Linked DNA regions of Homo sapiens: region 2 is linked to region 1. The links come from fine-mapping of genetic effects on gene expression. A gene starts in region 1. The other region holds a variant in brackets. All regions are shown on one strand. Distances are from middle to middle. Region 1 holds the start of RHOH (ras homolog family member H). Region 2 has its middle 49 kb from the start of LINC02265.

The links.
Region 2: its variant is fine-mapped to the expression of RHOH in whole blood (TOPMed, PIP above 0.99).

Annotation. Positions count from the first base shown.
Region 1 is chr4:40,192,024-40,203,151 of GRCh38, forward strand. RHOH (ras homolog family member H) reads left to right here and starts at 5,008. Exons shown (of 3, transcript NM_004310.5): 1 at 5,008-5,277. RefSeq lists enhancers at 995-1,354, 1,875-2,014, 2,504-2,713, 2,754-2,803, 5,981-6,080.
Region 2 is chr4:40,253,052-40,264,179 of GRCh38, forward strand. No RefSeq gene overlaps it. Among named protein-coding and RNA genes, the nearest start is that of LINC02265, 49 kb to the right of the region's middle. RefSeq lists an enhancer at 4,981-5,759. The variant C/A (reference allele first, on the strand shown) is at 5,708.

The DNA.
Region 1 (11,128 bases):
ATTCAGCATTTAAAAAGTATTTTATATGAATGTATTTTTACACTAAAAGTTACATCAGAATTAAGATCATTCTCTTAACATTTTATAGTTCCCATCATGAAATCTCTCAATCAGAAAGAAAGGATATTTTGTTTTAATACAGTTGTTCATCATCCAGTGGGGAGCTGGGTGAGAATAATTGCAATACGACTAATGGCCTGAGTTTGAAATTCAAAGCCTTCAGACAAGGTTTTAGTACATATTACCTATCTTCACAACTCACTGAAATATTTTATTAGGTGGCATAAATGAGGGTCTGTGTAAACATTAAAAGCTACCCACTGAATCTACATCATTTCTGTTAATATGCTAATAGCAAGGGGGAGGGAAAGGCATCTTACTAACCCAGCGTTGAAATAATTTAGTAGATGACTCAAGTCTCAAGGTTTCTAAGATTTACTATTCATACAATTACAATTGTCATTAAGAGTTTTCGCTGGCGTAAGTGGCACAACACCTTTGCAATGAGCAAACATAGTACTTATGCATGAGTTCAGGGTACACAAGTAGTTGTCATATTATTTAAAAAACCTCAATAAAAGAGGTCTTTGTTCACAGGAGAATATTAAAGTAAGCTGTTCTTTTGCCATATCAGAGAACATTTCTGATGAAGGTGGTTTTGAGAAAGTAAGTCTTTGCTTTTTCACCTTGACCTGAAGGGGACCGTTTGCACAGGGAATCCTGGAGGGGGCATGTTTAGGGCCAAGAAAATGGGCCTTGGGGCTCTGGCTGCTCCTCGTTGCCCACGGTGGTTCAGTTCTCTCTGTGGGGAGGCAGCGGGAGTGACAGCCAGGACAGATGAATGGGGTGAATCTTGGTTCTGGTTTTCTTAGGCCATAGGGTCTTATGCAAATCATTTAACCAGCTGAAGTCTCTGTTTCCTTGGCTGTTAAAATAGGGTTTAAAGTGTTTACCATAAAGGGCAGCTGTGAGGCTGTGAGATGGGAGAATCAATCTATTTATTGGTCAGAAAGTGGTTGTTCAGTACCTTGGATTTCTGAGTGGGCAAGGCTGGACCCTGAGCCCTGGGACCTCTGAAGTGAACACTGCAGGGCCATTTGGTGAGTGCTCTGGCCGTGTTAACACGACGTGCTATGGAGCCCTTGGGAGGGCACCTCACTGGGCTTGCAATGGAGGTGGGTGGTGGCTACAGATGGCTTCCTGGAAGATGGCTCAGAGGGGGGCTCTGATTCCCAGTTACGAACTGTGGACCCATGGTTTCCCTCCTCCTGCCACTCTGAAGTCCCCAGGATTTCTCCCAACCCCATCCCAAGGACAGACTGCACAGCGTCAGAAGGGACACGCCCTGGGGCTTGGGTGCGTGTATGTCTGTGAATGTTTGCATGTATTTTCAGCGTTTGCTTCCTCCCCTCACCACTACCCCTGTCGGTTAAAAGTCTGTTAAAAGAATGAGAGCGAGAGAGAGAGAGAGAGAGAGAGAGAGAGGAGAGGAGGGGCGGGGTGGGGGAGGAGGGGAGTGGGGAGAGAGAAAGAGAGAAACACCAAAAAGACATTTTCAAGGAAGGAAGAAAATTAGATGGCAACCCCCTGTCCCCTCCCCCTAAGAAAATCCTCTCTGAGATTAAACTGTGTGAAGATTAGAGGCGTGTAGGTCAGGAGCAGGAGGAAGCCCAACGCTGGACTGTACCAGATCATCTAAAACTGGCAATTCCAGGCACAGAAAACCAGTTCTTCAGAAGCAGAAGGGTGGTCAGCCAGGGGGTGAAAGGGACAGGGGTCTCGCAGCCAGGTATGACAATGCCCTTCCTAGTCCTTTCCAGGATGGGGTGGGACACACCCAGTCCATCCTGACTCTGGAGTACGTCTCCACTTTCGTGCAGAAAATGGTACAAGGCCTGAGGCCTGGAGCTCGTTATAAATCATGCTGGTGGCGTTTCTTGCTTTGTTTCCCAAAGGGCAGAGCCTCATCTCCCCTTCTACTTAGGAGATGGAGGGGATCTGTCCATACAGGCAGCTGTCCTTGTCTGACTCCTCTGCTTTCTGAAGGGGAGACATTGTCCCCCTTAAAGGACACTGGATCTCCTGTTGGAGGGGCAACCAATTTTGAACTCTTTGCCTCTTTAAATCTTTTAGAAACTTGGATGAGAGAAACTTTTTATCCTGAATTTTCTGAAGCATATCTGAAGTCATTTTTCTTTATTATTATTATTATTATTATTTTTTAGGCTGACGTCTCACTCTGTTGCCCAGGCTGGAGTGCAGTGGTATGATCTTGCCTCACTACAACCTCTGCCTACTGGGTTCAAGCAATTATCCTGCCTCAGCCTCTCGAGTAGCTGGGATTACAGGCATGAGCTACCGTGCCTGGCTAATTTTTGTATTTTTAGAAGAGACGGGGTTTCACCATGTTGGCCAGGCTGGTCTCGAACTCCTGACCTCAAGCGATCTGCCCTCCTCGGCCTCCCAAAGTTTTGGGATTATAGGCGTGAGCCACAGCACTCGGCCTATTGTCATTGTTATTATTAGTATTATTTTAGAGACTGGGTGTCGCTATGTTGCTCAGGCTGGTCTTGGACTCCTGGGCTCAAACAATTCGCCTGCCTCGGCCTCCCAAAGTGTGGGGATTATAGGCGTGAGCCACTGCGCCCGGCCCATGAAGTCATTTTTCATCTCTGGATAAAACTGGAACATCAAAGTGGTGCTGTGGGGTGGCACATTCTTACTAATCTCCTGCTGCACTCTCCCTGCCGCACACCCTGGAGTTGCTTTTAGTAAACTCTTCGGTGAGATGCAATCAGCATATATGGAGGAACAGCGTAAGGAACCACCTCACGGACTTGTGGCTGGCTGCGTGGAGTCTAAACATGGTGTTTCACTTCAGCCGTGTTGTCTTCTCTATGGGAATCCAGGGGGCAAAGTTTCTCTTTAATCTCAGCACTGGGGAGCCAGGAAGACCTCATGATTCTGAGCTATGTGTTTATGTTTCTCCCGCGGGCAATGAGCTTTCTGTGTGGTGATATTTCCTGCTTCATACCAGTTGCTGAAGAGCATAGAACCACGTGGCATACATTCTCTGTAATTAACCTCACCCCCAGTTTTAGTGTCATTTTTGTCTTCACTTCTCTTGGCCTCATTTTCAAATTTCTTGTTTTTAATTGTTTCATTTTGCTAAGGTGTAAGTATTTTTGCCAGATGCTCTAAATCCTTTGATGAACAAAACCAGAAGTAGATAAAGAAAATATCCACAAGCTTATGTTCTGCTCAGCTGATAACATCACCATGGTGATCTGGCTTTCCACAGAGGATTTTCCCTTTCTTTCCTTTCTTTCTTTTCCTTCCTTCCTTCCTTCCTTCCTTCCTTCCTTCCTTCCTTCCTTCCTTCCTTCCTTCCTTCCCTCCCCTTCTCTTCCTTTTCCTTCCCTTCCCTCCTTCTGTCTGTCCCTCTCTCTCTTTTTTCGAGACAGGGTCTTGCTGTGTCCCCAGGCTGGAGTGTGGTGGTGGATCACAGCTCACTGCAACCTCAACCTCATGGGTTCAAGCAATCCTCCTGCCTCGGACTCCTGAGTAGCTGGGACTACAGGTGTGGTTGCCCAGCTAATTTTTGTAGAGATGGGATCTCACTACGTTGCCCAGGCTGGTCCCGAACTCCTAGGTTCAAGCAATGCTCCCCGCTCAGCCTCCTAAAGTGCTGGCATTACAGGTGTGAGCCACCGCCACTGCACCTGGCCTCCCACAGAGGATTTTCTAGGAGATAATGTGCTCTTCAGAAGGCTCGAGGATCTCAGCTGGCAGATTGAGTTCTTACTGTGCATTAACAAATTGACACATGGGTTCATGTGGAAGTCTTGTGAACTTGGTAATTGGGTGTCTATTGATAAGAATGCTCACCTTGTACCATTGATTCCCTCTACAACTATGCTGCAAGCACAGTCATCTGCTTTCACTTCTTTGAACATGCCAACCTCTTTCCCACCTCAGGGCCTTTGCACATACTATTTGCCTCTACGTGGAATGTTCTTTCCTCCTTCTCATCCATTAGAGTGGCAGCAGTACTTTAGAATAATCAGAGGGGTTTAAAATAATATTGATGTCCGGTCCCAACCCAGCTCAATTAAACTCAAATCTTTGAGTGTGGGGCCGATGCACTGATAAAATAAAATAAAAGGCATGGAGTTGACTTTATCCTTACGGTCGGCAGGTATTTTGACCAAGCTATCACCGTGAGCAGTAGCATCAACAGTTAGTTATTCAGGGATTTGGGGCACAGGCGGTTGTGACCACATCACAAAAGTTCAATTTGTTGGGTTAGGCGTTTAGCCATAACCTAAGTAGTTGCAGATGGTCTCTACACCTGGATTGCCCATTAGGACAAAACAAGTAAACTTGTGTTTTTAGGCAAATAATGAAACTCTGAGGAGTCTGAAAAAACAACTCATCGCCAGGTAACTCCCAGCCCAGGTGCTCGTCCATACAGGGGTGAACGCACGGCAGGGGGCTGCTCGAACTCTCACTAAGCCTGCCTCTGTTCTTTGCAAAATATTTGATAGTTTTTAATGCAGCAAAGCGAAGCAGACAATCCACCTCTTGTTTTCCCCAAGCTGATGGGGGGAAAGTTCTAAGGTGTTGTTTCCTAAGCTCAAATTAACCAAGATTGGTCAGTGGCATGGACTTTTTTTTTTTTTTTTTTTGGTAATTTTACTTCCATGAGGAATCATTTGGACTCTTCAGTCTTCCTTTCTTCAGTTTTACGTAGGGCTTTGCTGGAGGAAAATGGGGCTAAGGGGGAGAGAAACATAGTCTCGGAGTAGGGTGGGGGATAAATTAAACGCAAACCCAGCGGTGCGGCAAAGGCCTTATTCTGCCTCTGATCTGGGGAAGTTTCATATTCTAATGGAGAGAAACGCACGTGCACACACACCCCCCTAAACCCACACAAATGAAACCCCCTCTGCGGAGAAGCCGGCTACAGGAAATTGACTTAGGCACAGGAACTTGCTAATCTCTTTTGTCACATTCGGATTGCTCCTGCTGCCCCACACACACTAACCCAACCATCTTGGGGTGGACTCCCTGCCAGCCCAACTGTTGTATTTTCAGTTCTTCCAGTGTGAATCAGTTAATATTCTCGGGAACGAGGGAGAGGTTGATCCTATGAGGAAATCAACCACAGTGAAAAGGCTTGGGCCGCTTTTGTTTTCACCTGCTTTTGTTGAACAAATTTGATTTCCGGAGTCAGTCATTTTACTGTCAAGACATTTCTTCGGCATTCTGCAACAGGTAAGGATTTTGCTTCCTTAAAAGTATTTCTTTGGTGTCAAAAGAAATTTTTCTAATTTTATTTAGCTTTTACTCTAGGCCAAACATCGTAATGACTCTGAGCTACCTGCTGTAAGGTGTAGAATCAATTTACAGGGGGACGGGGGTCGGGGGGGTGAGTGTTGCTTTGATATTCACTGCCCCTCACCACAGTCCTAACAAGATTTTTGAAACATGAAAAGTTACAATAGTTGGCTTTTTGGTTTTCCAGATATTCTAGAGAATGCATATGCTTGTGACTGTGGCTGAGCTCAACTGTATGGGTAGTTTAAATACTACCCAAGGTTTGATGAAGTAAATCTAAAGATGCTCTAAGTTGTGCAAATATGAATTTTAAAGTTGTCTAGTTCAGAAAAGAAACAGAACCGAAGTCTAAATGATGTAGATTTCAATCTGGAATTTCTAGCTTGTGTTTTTCACCTATTGCCAATGTTAATGACCATTTCCCAAAAGTGCTCTATGATGTATAACATGTATTTTTTAATTAAATTTAATCTTTCTTCTGAGGTGGTTTGATTTGGAGATATGCTACGAGGTACCAGTCAGTAGCCTGAGTTGTAACTAAACAAAGTTTGGGAAATCACCGGTTTTAGGTGCTTTACTAAATGAAAGTTGCCATTGACGTATTCAAGCAGGCAACAAGTAGTTGGTGTCCCCTTATTGGTTCTAAGCTGGTGCCGTGGAGGATATAAGAGAAATATTTTAAAAATCTCTACTTTGAAGGACCCTATAATCTGGTAGTTGTGATAAGAAGTAAAATTTAGGAAGCAATGCAAGATGAGAATTCAGTGATGAGTGGGGCAGCACAGGCTTGAAGAGTTCTGTGAATTCCATGGAGGGGGCCTGGGGGCAAACTGGAGTTGTCAGGAAGATCTGGGCTTTGGAAGAATGCGAAGTGTCGGTAGAAGGAGAAGGGGCAGGTGATTTCAGACTGGGAGGACCTTGTGGGCAAAGGCACAAAGGCGAGACTGACCTGGAGATGATAAGGCCAGTTGAAGAGACACTGGAGAAGAGAAGACAGTTTGTTTTACACATTGCAGGAAATCAGATTAGACAGTTAGGGTGTGGACACAAAAGCGAGGACCTTGCAGGCACTGGGGAGAAGTGACCCCATTCAATAGTCCTTGGTCTCCTTCTGCCCTGCGGCTGCGCTTCCTCGGCTCTCACGGCACCAGCAGAATTCCATGTGAGAGGGAGCTTGTCGAGCGTGGCCTCTTCCCACTTGGGGCTGCTTTCTGCATCCCTGTGCCTGGCTGTGGGCCTCCATTTGCCCTCTACTGTCTTCCCTTAGGACATCATTTATGCAGAGAAAGGTTCGTGTGGCTCGGGGTACCAGTAAGACCTCCACCTCTGGTTTCTTCATTTTAAGGAGGCCCTTCAATTATCCAGGAATTAAAGTGGCCTTCCTCTTGGGAGAACGAGTTGGTTGATGAATGATAAGCAAGTCTCTATTCCTCAAAAGCCAGTCCCCAAATTCCATGAAATATGTGCTACTTTCTTTGCATGTCTAAATGAGATGGCACGGGTATGCTTCTGTTCTTTTTCTGGACGTTGTTTAGAGAGTCAGTAGATCATAATAATTCAGACACTTTTTTTCTGGACCATAAAATATCTGAACCCATATAATAACAAACATACAGCACGGTGAATAAGAACCCAACTTTTGAGCCAGATCACTTTGCATGGAATCCCCATTCTATCATTCTATCATTTCTGGGCTGTGGGAACCTCAGACAAGTTACTTAACTTCTTCAATGCTCAGATTAAAAAAAAAATTCACAAAATATCTCTAATAACAGTAATAATAACTGAAAATACCTACCTCAGAGGGTTGTCGTAGAGATCAAATGAGATAAAAATATGTAAAGCATGTAGCCTAGTGCCTGACTGAAAAAAAAATCTCTCAATAGATGCAACTCTTATGATTCTTATTAAGGACTTGGCTATTGCCACAAATGAAGGTGTTATGAGCCCTGGCTTAAGAGCAAGAAGCCTGCAAAGCTAACTCTCCTAATCCCAACATTCCTTTCCAGGGAAAGTAGGGTGACAGGTGGAGGCTGGGAATTAACGTTTTTTGAGCACCAAATATGGACAAGGCACAGGGGTTGGGTGTTTTTCTAGTGAGAATACATATGAAAGAAGGAAAACAAACTTGGAAACCGCTATTTTAAGCCATTTGGTAACAGTTTCTCTAGCTTATGAGATGAGAGAGGTCCTCTCAGTATCCGCTGCATTACTTGTGGGCCTCCTTGGTTGACGTCGCTCTCTGAACGCTTGGGGTGGAATTCTAGAGGTGCTTTTCATTAGAGGCAGAGAGCATGACCTTTCTTCCTTGCCCAGTTTAAATTAAATTATTTTATCTTACAATGTGTTAATTTTAGTGCTAGCAAGGCACAGCTAAAATTCCATTTCTACTTAGGAGTGGGGATCATTGTGGCAGTGAGTGCTTATTTGGGTTTGGGATGCTTGGATCTGGGTGAAAGCCAGGATTAAAAAGCATCCTCCTTCCCCATTCCACTCTCTAGGTTATAAATATTTTTTTGGATTAAAAGCCTCCTTTAAAAAAATGCAAATCCACCTGGCATGTTAATTGTGCAGGGGATTCCTAATTATGTGTGCAGATGACGTGAGTCACACGGTGATAGTGTTCCTTCTAGAGTCCCACTGGTGTCCTAAGGGAGGAGACTCTGGAGCTTTGTGTATGAAAAGGGATGGGCACAAGTCAGGATGGGGTGCACAGGTGGAGGCTGGGAGGCAGCATGACAGTGTGGGGGCTGGGGTGGGCTGTGAGAGCAAGGAGGGTGTCAGAGATGGAAAGGATGACCCCAGGGGGGTGGAAGGGTGCCAGAAACTTAGGGCTCCTCTGTGAGCTCTTTAGCCATTTGACTCTAGCAACTGCTTGAATGCCCTGAACAACCTTTTGACGACTTGCACAAGAAGTTGTCATACTGTTCCCCGGATGTGGACAGTTGTTCAGAGACCACGATCATGTGTCTGGTGTCTCACTGTGGAATAGTGGTTTCTAAAGCTGGCTGGACAGCAAAACCACCTGGGGAGCTTTTAAGAAACTGAAATTCCATGTCTCATACCCCAGCCCTCACGTGAGGTCCAGGAATCTGTGTGATTAAAAAATACAAGCCCCAAAACAACTTGGAAAGTGGTCGTTTTGCAGGTGGGGATTTAGGAACCAAGAATCCAGAACTCTCCTACCAGGGCCCCAGAAACCGTAAGTTGAATAAGTGCTGAAATGAGGCAAATTGATCTACTCTCTATTGTGATTAATATCTTCACACAGCAAGTATTTTCCTTTGTTTTGAGTTCATTCCTTGAGATGAGTTATCGGGAGCGGGGTGACTGGGTCCAGGATATGAGGATGTTTAGCTCAGTCATACCCGCATTTTAACACGCAAACGTACGGTGCCGCTCATTTAAAAACCAAAGTGTTGTATACATGTAGAAGCTATATATTATTCCGGGGCAGCCCAAAGAGGGGATGTTGCTTTCAAGCGAAAGCACCAAATCACATTCTTTTCTGGTAAAATAGAATACTAATGAATTGCTTTTGGAAGAAATTTCCAGAGCATTACTGAATGTTCAAGTGCTTCTTAGAGCACAAGTTGAACCTTTCTTATCTCTGCACTCAGTTTCTCGTAAAACTGAAGTCACAGTGACCTCTTCCCCATTTCGTAGAAAAGAAACCCAAGGAAGAGAGTGGTTAAGAAACAGAAGATACGGTTCTCATCACATTTGCCTGAGAACTACGTATAGTCATCCATTCAGTGCCTCGTTAAGTAAATAAATGATTGAATCATTTGTATACATGACCTCATGGAAAAAAGCACGGTAAAATGAATGTTTGAGGGTGGGTAGACAGAATTATTCAACCCGGACAGGTGTTAGATGTTCACTCTATCCCCCCCTTTTTTTTTGCATTAGGTTTTATTCATTATTTGCATCATCTATGGACCTAAAAGCATGCTCATTGTCACACAGATGGGAACAGGGTGAATTTTCAATGATTTCAATGAAAAAAAAAAAAAGATGTGCTGTTGCAAAATATCAAGGGAGATGTTTACAGTGGTGTTCTAGAACCGGCTTGCTCTCAAGTGCTGATTGTAATATTTTCAGAAATTTTCCAAGCCAGTGACATTATTGACTTCTCTTTATCTGTGTGATGGAAATGCTATATAATATTGTGCTATCTGAGCATCTGTTTTCAATTTTGCATTCAGCGATGTCATGATGGTGGCTTGAAATTGGCTATGGTAAAAGTACACTGTGAAAATCAGCAAACACAATAAATCAGGCTCCCCACCTTTTTTTTTTCGGGGCGGGGGGCAAGCATGTTGTTAAACGTTTACTAGCATGCTACTGAGGAACTGTGTAAAATACAAATATGGCAATTTGACGATATGTATCAAGAGCCATTAAAGTGTTCATACACTTTGATCCATTCATTCCACCCCTGGAAATTTATTCCGAATAAATAATTCAAAGAAAAGTAATATGCATGAACATATTCACTGTATTATCATTTATAGCAGCAAAATCTGAAAATACCCTGAACACTAAGCAATAGGAGTTCTGGCAACATTAACTCCATGAGTTTTTTTTTTTTTTTTTTTTTTTTTAAGACAGGGTCTTGTTTTGTCACCCAGGCTGGAGTGCAGTGTGTAATCACAGCTCACTCAGCCTTGACCTCCTGTGCTCATTTGATCCTCCTGCCTTAGCCTCCCAAGTAGCTGGGACCACAGGCGTGTGCCACCACACTTGGCTAACTTTTTTTTTGTAGAGACGGGGTCTCACTTTGTTGCCCAGCCTGGTCTCCATCTCCTGGGATCAAGTGATCCTCCTGCCTTGGCCTCCCAAAGTGCTAGGATTACAGGCACGTCACTGCGCACAGCCCATGGGTTCTTTTAAAGTCATTAAAAATCATAGTTATGATGGTTATGAAAATATGTTTGATATGATGTTAGGTTAGAAAATCAGAATTAAAAATTTTAATTACATTCTGATTTTGTTGTGAATAAGAATTAAATGTGAGCCGTAAAAAAATGAATGACAGCATTTGGTATGTTAGAATGGTGAAATAGTAGAATTTGTTTTTATTTTGTTTATTGTAGTCGTGGTGTGTGTTCATTTAAGAAATTTGGAGAACACCTGTTAATAAGTGATCTTGAGTAGTTTTAACATTTAGGAGGAAGGCTATGAGTTTTGTGAACCACATGGGGCTTTACCTTTAACCGGTAGATGTTACTGTGAATCCCTGGGCAGGGTATTGTAAAGGGAGTTTGGAGCTAGGCAGTGTGAGCTGTGGATGCTAAAGGGGTTTCTTTAGAGCAGCTTAAGGAGGAGGAAGAAGTAAGTAACTGTGTCCTGAGGACTTGCTAAAAGTAGACTGCAAGGACTGAGAAATAGCCCAGAGAAAAACTACCATCAAAGGCCAGAGAGACAGGCGAGAGAAGGTTTCTTAGGAAGAGACAAGGAGACGCTGATCTCAGAGGTGAACAACATGGATAAGAAATTAACTCCATTTTGACCTGAAAAAAATAGGGGCTGACACCAGAAAGGAAATGATTTTTGTAGAGCAATGGTTCTCAAGTTTTATTTATTTATTTATTTTTAGTTTTTTTTAAATTTTTTATTTTTTGAGATGGAGTCTCGCTCTGTTGCCCAGGCTGGAGTGCAGTGGCATGATCTTGGCTCACTGCAAGCTCCGCTTCCCGGGTTCACGCCATTCTCCTGCCTCAGCCTCCGGAGTAGCTGGGAATACAGGTGCCCGCCACCAGGCCCCGCTAATTATTTTGTATTT
Region 2 (11,128 bases), 61 kb after region 1:
CAAGAGATGGAGACCATCCTGGCCAACATGGTGAAACCCTGTCTCTACTAAAAATACAAAAATCAGCTGGGCGTGGTGGCGCATGCCTGTAGTCCCAGCTACTCAGGAGGCTGAGGCAGGAGAATTGCTTGAACCAGGGAGGGGGAGGTTGCAGTGAGCTGAGATCGCGCCAGTGCACTCTAGCCTGGAGATAGAGCGAGACTTCGTCTCAAAAAAAAAAAAATTGTTTTAAACACAGAAATCATTAAAGTAAGTGATTACCTCTTCTGGTCCCGGGGTGTCACAGGTATTGGTAATGTTCTATTTTTAAGTTTGGGACATAGGCACTTGAGTGTTCATTGATTTTTTCCTATTATTTATTCTTCAAAATATCCAGATATATTTTATGTATTCTTTTGTGTGTATGATATAATTAATTAAAAAAATTTAAAGTTTGGGTTCTAAAGCAAAACTGTCTGAACTTGAATCTCAGCTCTGCCACTCACTAGGCTCTACAGCCTTGTGTAAGTTAACTAACCTCTTTGTGTGTCAGTTTCCTCATCTGTAAAATGGAGAAAATAACATAGTGAGCATTAAAGGAGCTAATGTGGGTAAAGGCTACACTATGTCTAGTACAATAAATGGCAGCTATGTCATTCTACTGTTATACACCTCAGAGCTGGCAGGATTCTACTGTTTATGGATGAAGACACAGGTATTGAGACCATTGCCTGACCTGCCTAAGCCCACAAATTGGTGGTAGACCCAGACCACCTCACTCGTCCTACTCTTTGCTGCTCTTTTCTGTAAACTTCCTAAGAAGAGAGGAACCTGGGGTTTTTACTTGTTCGCTTTTCATACACTTGCTTTTCAACCCATGTTTGCTGTACTTGAATTCTTTCTAGTATTGTTTCTTAGCACAAATAGGTAACTTTCAATATCTCACAGAAGGGATCAACAGAGGCTCAGTCCCTTATCGTATGTGAAGACATCTCCATTCACTTGTTTATTTACTCAGAATGTACTGAGTTCTTTAGGTTCTTTACGGGGTTTATTCAGAGAAAGTGGAGGACTCAGTGACTCACAGAGCATCTCTCCATAGCTGGACTTGCCGTGTTGTTTCCTAATTATTTACTTGTGTTTCTATCATTGCACCTTGGCCTTAGTGTCAAGCTGTGCAATAGCCAAAGTTCCCGCTTTCATAGAGTTTAAGGATTTAATTAGGGATAGGGGTGTGAACAGTAGTTATAAAATAAACAGATAAGATCAATGTAGCTGGGTGCAGTGGCTCACGCCTGTAATCCCAGCACTTTGGGAGGCCGAGGCGGGTGGATCATGAGGTCAGGAGATCGAGACCATCCTGGCTAACACAGTGAAACCCTGTCTCTACTAAAATACAAAAAATTAGCCAGGCATGGTGGTGGGCGCTTGTAGTCCCAGCCACTTGGGAAGCTGAGGCACGAGAATCGCTTGAATCCAGGAAGCGGAGGTTTCAGTGAGCCGAGATCATGCAACTGCACTCCAGCCTGGGCGACAGAAAGAGACTCTGTCTCAAAAAAAAAAAAAAGAACAATGAACAATGTAGATGGATGTTCGGTGCTATTAAGAAAATAAATTAGGAAAAGGGAGAGAGGATATTTAGCATTTTGGTAGGATAGGGAGGCCTGATAGAGCAGAGGCCCGAATGATGTTGACAGACCACATCAGTGATCTGGTTTTAACACAAACAACCTCTTTGTAAAAGAAAGCAGGCTTAGGTTTTTCCCTATTGCCCTGCGAGGGACACACATGCTTTTTACCATGATGAGTGTTCAATATTGCACAGCACCCTCCAGCAGTGACTGCCTTCATTGGGGATTCTAATCCATCTGTCTGCCTGCTGGGAATGACTGAATTGGGGCAGTTTGAGGGGATGGATTATCAAATAGAGCAGAACAGAAAATTGGCATGATTCATAGAACCAGGGTGGTGCTGGGGGGTTACACAGGCAAGCGGTTTCTAATGGATTCTGCACAAAAGGAAGGAAATGACTAGAACTCAGGGCCTACATAGGACTCAGAGTGAAGACCTCGCCTGCAGGGCCCTGAGGAGAGATTCCAAGAATCTGCAGGCTGAGCATGTGTGCTTGTGGCAGCACAGGGTTGAGAAGCAGCGAGGCTGCAGCTTGCTGGAGCCCAACTATTGATGCAGTTGAACGTCCTTTGTAGCCTTGTTTAAATAGAACATAATAAGGCGGCACAGTCTGTCTGTAGAACTTTTACACTAATTGAAACAGATATGGGTGCAATTTACAAGTGAGTCACCAGAGCTAACCCAAGGGCAGTTGTTGCATCGTAGATCTGTTGTCTTGGGGAATTGACTTACTGAGGTGTTGGACTGAAGATATTTTTTTAAAAAGTTTTCAGACAGCCCTAGGTAAATCACTGCACATGTGTACTTCTCAAATACATCTCCTCCCTCTCCCCTTTCTCTTCCTCCTCTTCATCGCTTCTGTCTGCAGCCCGGGGGTACCTCTCTCACCCAACTTTGATTGCTCTAGCATCAAACAGTGCTGTGCCCATAGTAATGCTGAACCACATTTCTTAAGTGAATCAATCCTCACAGTCATCAACTCCACACATTAATTCATTTAGTACTTTAAAATTTTCCAAAGTGCTTTTCCTTGTCTTATTATAACAATTGCCAGCATTTGGTCAGCACTCTAGAGGTTATAAAGTACTTTGTGTACACTGTCTCCTATGACATCACAGCAATGCTGTGGGTTATTATTACTTGACTCATTTTGCAGGCAAGGAAGCTAAGGTTCAGGAATGCTAAATGACTCATCTGTGACCATGTAACTAATGCTTGGCAGAATCAGGATTTGTACTTAGATCTCTTGCTCCAAACTCCCTTTTTTCCATTCGATGATGCTTTCATCTGATGCTCTGGATGACCCTGTGAGGTGTTAGTGTAAGAGATGAGGTCCAGGAGGGTGACATGGCTCATCCAGGCCACACACATGCACTCACTGACCAGAAGTGAGGTCTTCCATCCAAGCCTTGGCTGTCACTATTTTCACCCTTATTGTCAGAGCATATTTTTTTAACTGAACCCACTTACTGTGTGGTTGTCTGCTAGGCATTCATTGAGTAAACAGATATTGATGCTATCTCTGTTTAACAAATGGAAAAGTCAGAAAGAAGGAAATAATCCATAAATCCAGGCCTCAAACTGTATTTACCTTACTTCTCTGGATACTGCATGCAAACCCATACAATTTTTTTTTAATCTCTTGTTAGTGTAGATCCTTTCATTGAGCTCAAACCTAAATCAACATGGCAGAACATTTTCCCCGGCTTCTCTGTTATTTACTGGACTCCCATTTTTTGGAGTTGAAGGGGACCTCAGGGAGGATTTAGCCCAATCCTATCATCTTACAGATGAAGAAACTGACTCTCCTCTTTGCCCAAGACACACAGATGGCTTTGGGCAAGTCGGGACTTGAGGGCCAGGCTTTGGCTCCCAAGGGCTCTCACTTGTTCCTGCAGGCCTCAGAACTTCCAGCCTCTAACATGGAGCTTTGGACTCTGCCTATTCGTTTCAGGTTTCTGTGATGGAAGTTTAAAGGCTGCTGGGTGTGGTGGCTCATGCCTGTAATCCCAGCGTTTTGGGAGGCTGAAGCGAGCAGATCACCTGAGGTCAGGATTTCCAGACCAGCCTGGCCAACATAGTGAAACCCCGTCTCTACTAAAAATACAAAAGTTAGCTGGGCGTGGTGGCAGGCACCTGTAGTCCCAGCTACTTGGGAGGCTGAGGGAGGAGAATCACTTGAACCCAGGAGGGAGAGGTTGCAGCGAGCCAAGATCATACCACTGCACTCCATCCTGGGTGACAGAGAGAGACTCCATCTCAAGAAAAAAAAAAAGAAAGAAAATGTCAGAGACAAAGGCTAGCACATGAAACCAGTGAGTAGAGAACAGGAAGACACAGGACACGCCAGCCAGCCAGAGGCACTGCCTGGCTTATTAGCAATAAGCTCAACTGCTAGAGCTGTGTGTCCTGAACAACTCAGGCTGGGGCTTTGTGTGTTCAGGGGCACCCCAGAGATACTCTCCCACCCCTTTCCCCAAATGCTCCTCAGGAAAATCTGCAATCTAGCCTGGTTGGCACAAGTGAAAGAAATCATAACGGAAAGAGATTCTTTATATTGATGTCTTTCTATGTCTATCCTAAGAAAACCCACAGATATTGCACATTCATTGGTGAAAAGATTAGAAGCAATGAAACAAAATGATAATAAAAAACACTTCAATAGCTACTGTTACATCTTTTTTTGTCTCTACCATTCCAGACTTTTTCTTATCCACATATGTGTGTATTTTTACAAAAATAGGTTCGTATGGTGCAATCTGATTTGCAATCTACTTTTTTCATTTATTATATTGTGAACAGCTTTCAGTATCAGTATGTTAACGAATATACATACTCCTACACTGTGTAATGGCAGTGTGTTAGCCTAGATTTTTCCAAGGAACCTGTAACCATGTTTGTTAATTGTATCCATGGGCTTCTAAGGGGTGTGTGTGTGTGTGTATGTGTGCATGCACACATGCATATATATATATACACACACACAAATAGATATATACATACACATATATAAATAGCCTTGCTTAGACTCATAGTAATAACCTCAGATATATCCAGCACTATGTACTTTACATATATTAATTTATTTACTTATTGTAAGCACCCAAGATAAAAGTAGAATTTTCATCCACCCTTTACAGATGAGGAAACTTACTCAAGGTAAGACACTGGCATGTGGTAGAGTCAGGATTCAGTCCCGGCAACCTGGCCCCCAGCCTGGCCTCCTGACTACCACCCTTCCAATAATGGGCCCACCTATTGGGTTGCACATTCTAACTCCTTGGTTACATAAACTGGGAGGGCTTATAGGGAACATCCCAATCCTGGAAAGAAAAATCTTAGTATGACAGATGTAAAGTCCAGAGAGTTTTGTTTTTTTTTTCTGAGTCTTACTCTGTTGCCCAGGCTGGAATGCAGTGGTGTGATCTTGGCTCACTGCAACCTCCGCCTCCCGGGTTCAAGCAATCCTCCCACCTTAGCCTCCTGAGTAGCTGGGATTACAGGTGTCTGCCACCATGCCCAGCTAATTTTTGTATTTTTGGTAGAGACAGGGTTTTACCATGTTGGCCAGGCTGGTCTCCAACTCGTAACCTCAGGTGTTCTGCCTGCTTCGGCCTCCCAAAGTGCTGGGATTACAGGCATGAGCCACCGCGCCTGGCCACAGAGATTTCTTTAACTTCCTTTCAAGTCACCTGCACGTTCCTTCCAGAGTGTGGCGACCATCGGCCGGCTCTCCTCTCTCTGTCTTTGCTGCTCCTTCGCATCCCCACCCCGGCCTCCATCTTTTTCTGCCGTCCTTCTCTGCCTTTCCTGCAAGGTTGGCCTCCATGGTGAAGGTGCTGTATCAGATTCCCTTTGTCCCCGGAGGAGGCTCAAGCCTTGCGGATGACCCAGAGTAGAACAGCTAGGAAACCAACACGCCTCCCTCTTGATACTCTTGACACCAGTCAGAAGAAACTGCTGTGTGTTTTAGGCTCGCCTAGTCACTTTCCTCCATTTTAACAGACTTCCCCCCAGGAAGAAAGGGGAGGGGGCCGAGGGGAGGAAGGAAAGGAGTGGGGAAGGGGGGAAGAAAACCCCCATCCTGCCACAACAC[C/A]GAGCCTCGGATTTCGCTCTGCTTCGATGCTAAGGTCTCTGATTCTCCCTGGTTCTTTCTGAAGCTTGGGGGTGGGGTAGGGAGAACACGTGCTGAGGCTTCAAGCTGCAGCACGGCTCTAAGAAGCTTCAGATGGGGAACCCTGAATGGACACCTCTAACTTCCCTCTCCTCCAGAAAAAGACTGGTCAGCTGAGGTGGGGCTGTTGTTAGGTTTGACTGGCTAAAAGTTTGTGTAGAGGGGACTCAGGGTTCCTTTCTCTGCCAGGGCATTTTCTTAGGAATGGAACCTCTCAGCTGGGCACAGTGGCTCACGCCTGTAATCACAGCACTTTGGGAGGCCGAGGCAGGCAGATCAAGGGGTTCAAGAGATCAAGACCATCCTGGCCAACATGGTGAATCCCCATCTCTACCAAAAATACAAAAACATTAGCTGGGCGTGTTGGCACACATTTGTAATCCCAGCTACTCGGGAGGCTGAGGCAGAAGAATTGCTTGAACCCAGGAGGGGCAGGCTGCAGTGAGCTGAGATCGAGCCACTGCACTCCAGCCTGGTGACAGAGAGACTCCATCTCAAAAAAAAAAAAAAAAAAAAAAAAAGGGAATGGAACCTCTCATATGCTGAAGTCTGCCCTTCCCAGCGGGTCTATTATCATCTGATTAACTGCTGTGGTGAAGAATCTTAAAATAAAACAAACAAACAAAACCCAATCACTACAGCTGTATACTGTTTAAAAGCACAGTGAATTCCAAGTCGGGGGGGTGAGGGGGAAGGACAAAGAATTCGTAGGAAAAAAAAAGAAAAAACAAAAACCAAGAACATATTAAAATGTAAATCTATTTTTTTATTATTATTATGACGCGGCATCGTCTTGGGTAAATACCCAGGGTTCATCATCTTGCGCCAAGAAGATTCAGGACATGCACACACACAAGGAATTTAGGAGTGGAGGTTTAATAGGCAAAATAAAGAGAAAGGAGAATAGCTCTTTCTCTAGTGAGAGAGAGTGCCTTCCATAAGGAAAGACAAGCCAGTGGCGGAGTGCACCGGATTTTATAGGCAGGCTGGAGGAGGCGGTGTCTGATTTACATAGGGCCCACAGATTGGTTTGATCAGGTGTGACGTTTACATAGTGCTCGGTGAAGGCTGGCCACCCCACCCTAATCTTACCATGCCATTAAATGGGCTTTCCACTTGACTTGCGCCATATTGTCTGCTCCTTACTATACACATGGCTGGCAAAGAGAAGGGAAGATGGAGCCGCCATTTTGAACATGCCTAGTCCCAGGTAGCTTTTTTCCTGCTGGCATTCACCTGTGCAAGCTTTCCACTTGCTTGTCTATGTTTGCAGCTCGATTTTACAGGCTGTTCTGTGTTAGAAAATGATTTTGGGGCTACTTTTCATTAAAAAGGAAAACCTTGCCAGGCGCTGTGGCTCACGCCTGTAATCCTGGCGCTGTGGCTCACGCCTGTAATCCCAGCACTTTGGGAGGCCGAGGCAGGTGGATCACGAGATCAGGAGATCGAGACCTTCCTGGCTAATACGGTGAAACCCTGTCTCTACTAAAAACATACAAAAAATTAGCCAGACGTGGTGGCAGGCGCCTGTAGTCTCAGCTACTCGGGAGGCTGAGGCAGGAGAATGACGTGAACCCGGGAGGCAGAGCTTGCAGTGAGCCGAGATCGCGCCACTGCACTCCAGCCTGGGGGACAGAGGGAGACTCCGTCTCAAATAAAATAAAATAAAATAAAATAAATAACAAAAAGGAAAACCTTACCGAGGACTCCCATACCCTCACTAACTGCCTAAGCAGTTTCTTCTTAACTCCTTTATTATTATAATTATTTGAGAAGGAGTTTCACCCTTGTCACCCAGGCTGGAGTGCGATGGTGCAATCTGGACGCACTGCAACCTCCGCCTCTCGGGTTCAAGCGATTCTCCTGCCTCAGCCTCCCAAGTAGCTGGGACTACAGGCACCTGCCACCATGCCTGGCTAATTTTTGTATTTTTAGGAGAGACAGGGTTTCACCGTGTTGGCCAGACTGGTCTGGAACTCTTGACCTCAGGTGATCCCCCTGCCTGAGCCTCCCAAAGTGCTGAGATTACAGGCATGAGCCACCGTGCTGGCCGAACTCCTGCATTATTTAGACTCAACATACATTGTCCAGTTGCTATAAAACTTTTTCCATATGTCATTCTCTCGATTTCTGTGCTTACCTTTGTCAACCTAAAGGAGGAAATTGAGGCAAAATTAATATAGAGTCCATTTGGGCCAAGGCTAAGGACTGCAACCGAGGAAACACTGAGAAGTTCTCCTGAGAATAAAGGAGAGGTTTTTAAGGAAAAAAGGATCAATCAGGAGAGAGGGCAATTGCAAAAGTTGTTTTTTCAGGAATTTTTGCAGGGTTACAGGGATAACATTGATTAGTAATTGACTATATGTTGTTGAACTATAGTGTGTGAATAATGTTGTCTAGCATATGGCATATGTTAGGTAAATTTATGGGTACTTGGTGGAGACATTCAGTCTAGAGTCTATATAGCAGGAGGCTTCAAAATAAATACTTAGCTCAAGGTGGTAGTTGCTGCCAGACTCTGGCTGAGAGATGGATGAAGGAAGTACGCTGACACAGGTGTTTTACCTGACAGCGTGGCTAGGGGACTGCCGCTTAGCACCACCAGCAAGAGTGCAGCAGCAGCAGCTCCCATAAGCCAGAGACACTCGCATTTATTTAGTACAGATTTAACGACAAAGGCTTGGAGCAAACACAATTTGGGGTGATTAACATTGTCGACCCCCCCAAGTAGAGAGCAGTCCTGCACACGAATGAGCAAAGGTTGGTTTCTGGAGACATAAGTAAACAGATTTATCTAGATAAGTTCCTTTACATTCCCCTGTTATCTGCCTTTTGTTCTCAGCCCCCGGACAAGAGAATTTGGCTGCCTTCAGCCATAATCCTCTCCTGAAGCTTTTGCAAAACCTCCCTGCCTTCTAAGAAGGTTTGTGTCTTTCCCTATAATTTTTCCTACCACCCTGACTGATTTCCTACAGGTAGGGGGTGGAGTGAGCCATGACTGCTGTCTCATTTTAATGCCTCTCTGGGCCTGATCACTTAAAAGGGCTCATATTCCTCAGATAAAAAGTTTATTTTCTTTCTCACCTTGCCATGGTCCAGTAACAGTTTACAGACCTGCCCTGGATGGCAGGTTGCACTTTGAACAGTGATGATCTAATTCACTCATTCCTTCTCCGTTTAGGGAAGTTCACTCATTCACAGAATAAAACATTCATTACATATCTGTTATAAGCCAGACATATAGATGATTTGGGCTTATTCTGTTCTCAAGTGATTGCTGTGACACCATGACCATGTGTTATGATTATATAATTGAATTGGAATAGTCTAGTCATCAATAGAATGTCATGTTCACCATGATAGCACTGAAAAGAAAAATTGCCCCAGGCCTGGTCTGGGACAGACCCTTTTTTGGATGTGATGTAATTCACAACTTCCTTCTGGGGAGAAACTCAGTGCTCCTGATAAAATGCCCAAGCTGTTTTCTGATGGACTTTGATGGGATTAAGGCTTGTTCTGGGAAACAAGTCACACCTACCCTGCTCCCTGACCCCCTGCAGACTTTCAGACAACAGCCCAGTTGACCTTTAACCATATATATATATATATATATATATATATATATATTTTTTTTTTTTTTTTTTTTTTTAAGATGGAGTCTTGCTCTGTCACCCAGGCTGGAGTGCAGTGGGGCAATCTCGGCTCACTGCAACCTCCACCTCCCGGGTTCAAGTGATTCTTCTGCCTCAGCCTCCCAAGTAGCTGGGACTACAGGCGTGTGCCACCACGCCTGGTAATTTTTGTATTTTTAGTAGAAACAGGGGTTTCACCGTGTTGGCCAGGCTGGGTTCAAACTCCTGACCTCAGGCAATCAGCCCCCCTCAGCCTCCCAAAGTGCTGGGATTACAGGCGTCAGCCACCATGTCTGGCCTAACCAGCCATTCTTTTATTCTGTGTCTAGTCTAACAATGACTGTCTGGCCATTCTCTTTTCCTATAAAATGCCCTATCAAGTGTGAATCTTGGAAATAGACTCCTAGAGGCCATTTCACTTGAAGAAAGGCTGCAATACAGTTACAACACGTGGTCATAACTAAAGAGAGGGAAGGAGAGAATTCTGATGGGTTGATGGAGTTGGTGGGACTCAGTGACCCTGAGAAAGCTTTATAGTATTTCTGAGTCTCAGTTTTGTCATCTGTGAAATGGAGACAATAATACCTCAGGAGGTGGCTGTGAGAGTGAATATGGAATGGAAAGGGCGTGGTATCTGCCCAGCATGTATTAGTGCACCCTACATGCACATGATGATGATTATGATGGTGATGACTATGGACCCCTGATCTCTGAAAGAATTAAGAATATGCCATCCAAAACATGCCATTCTGGCATATTGACTTTTAAGTTAAAGGTATATGGAAAACAGTGGGTGCAAGGTCACTCCGACCTCTGTGCTGTTTCTTAAAAGCAGGAGATGGGCCGGGCATGGTGGCTCACACCTGTAATCCCAGCACTTTGGGAGGCCAAGGCGGGTGGATCATCTCAGGTCGGGAGTTCCAGACCAGCCTGACCAACATGGTGAAACCTCATCTCTACTAAAAATACAAAATTAGCCAGTCGTGGTGGTGCACGCGTGTAACCCCAGCTACTTGGGAGGCTGAGGCAGAAGAATTGCTTGAACCCAGGAAGTGGAGGTTGCAGTGAGCTGTGATCGCGCCATTGCACTCTAGCCTGGGCAACAAGAGCGAAACTCCGTCTCAAAAAAAAAAAAAAAAAAAGCAGATGAAATTCGAGTGTGAAAGACACAACATCCTTATCTTTGAGGTTGAGAAGTAGAGACCAGGAGTATTCTGCACAGACCTTGTTCAAATAACTCTTATCTTTTAAGCCTCTCTACATAATTTAGTTGCTTCTTCACAACTTACTACTCTTGGTCCAATCCAGTATATATTAATAAGTAACTGACTCTAGCTGCTTCTTTGGGCGTCTTCATTTCCTTAGCAGGGCTCCCGTGCCATGTAAAACTTATATGAAATAAAGTTGTATGCTTTTCTCCTGTTAATCGATCTTACATCAATTTAGCCTTTGTGCCCAGCTGAGACCCTAAGAGCATGGAAGTGGATGGAGTTTTGCTGTCCTTACATCTCCTCAAGTAGAGTCCTGGAGTTCCAGGGTATTACCGTAACCACCCAATGGGTTCACCTTGCTGGGTGCCTAGACAGAGTTGATTTCTCAGGACAGGGGAATTGCAATAGAGAAAGAGTAATTCAGGCCGGGTGTGGTGGCTCATGCCTATAATCCCAGCACTTTGGGAGGCCGAGGAAGGTGGATCACGAGGTCAGGAATT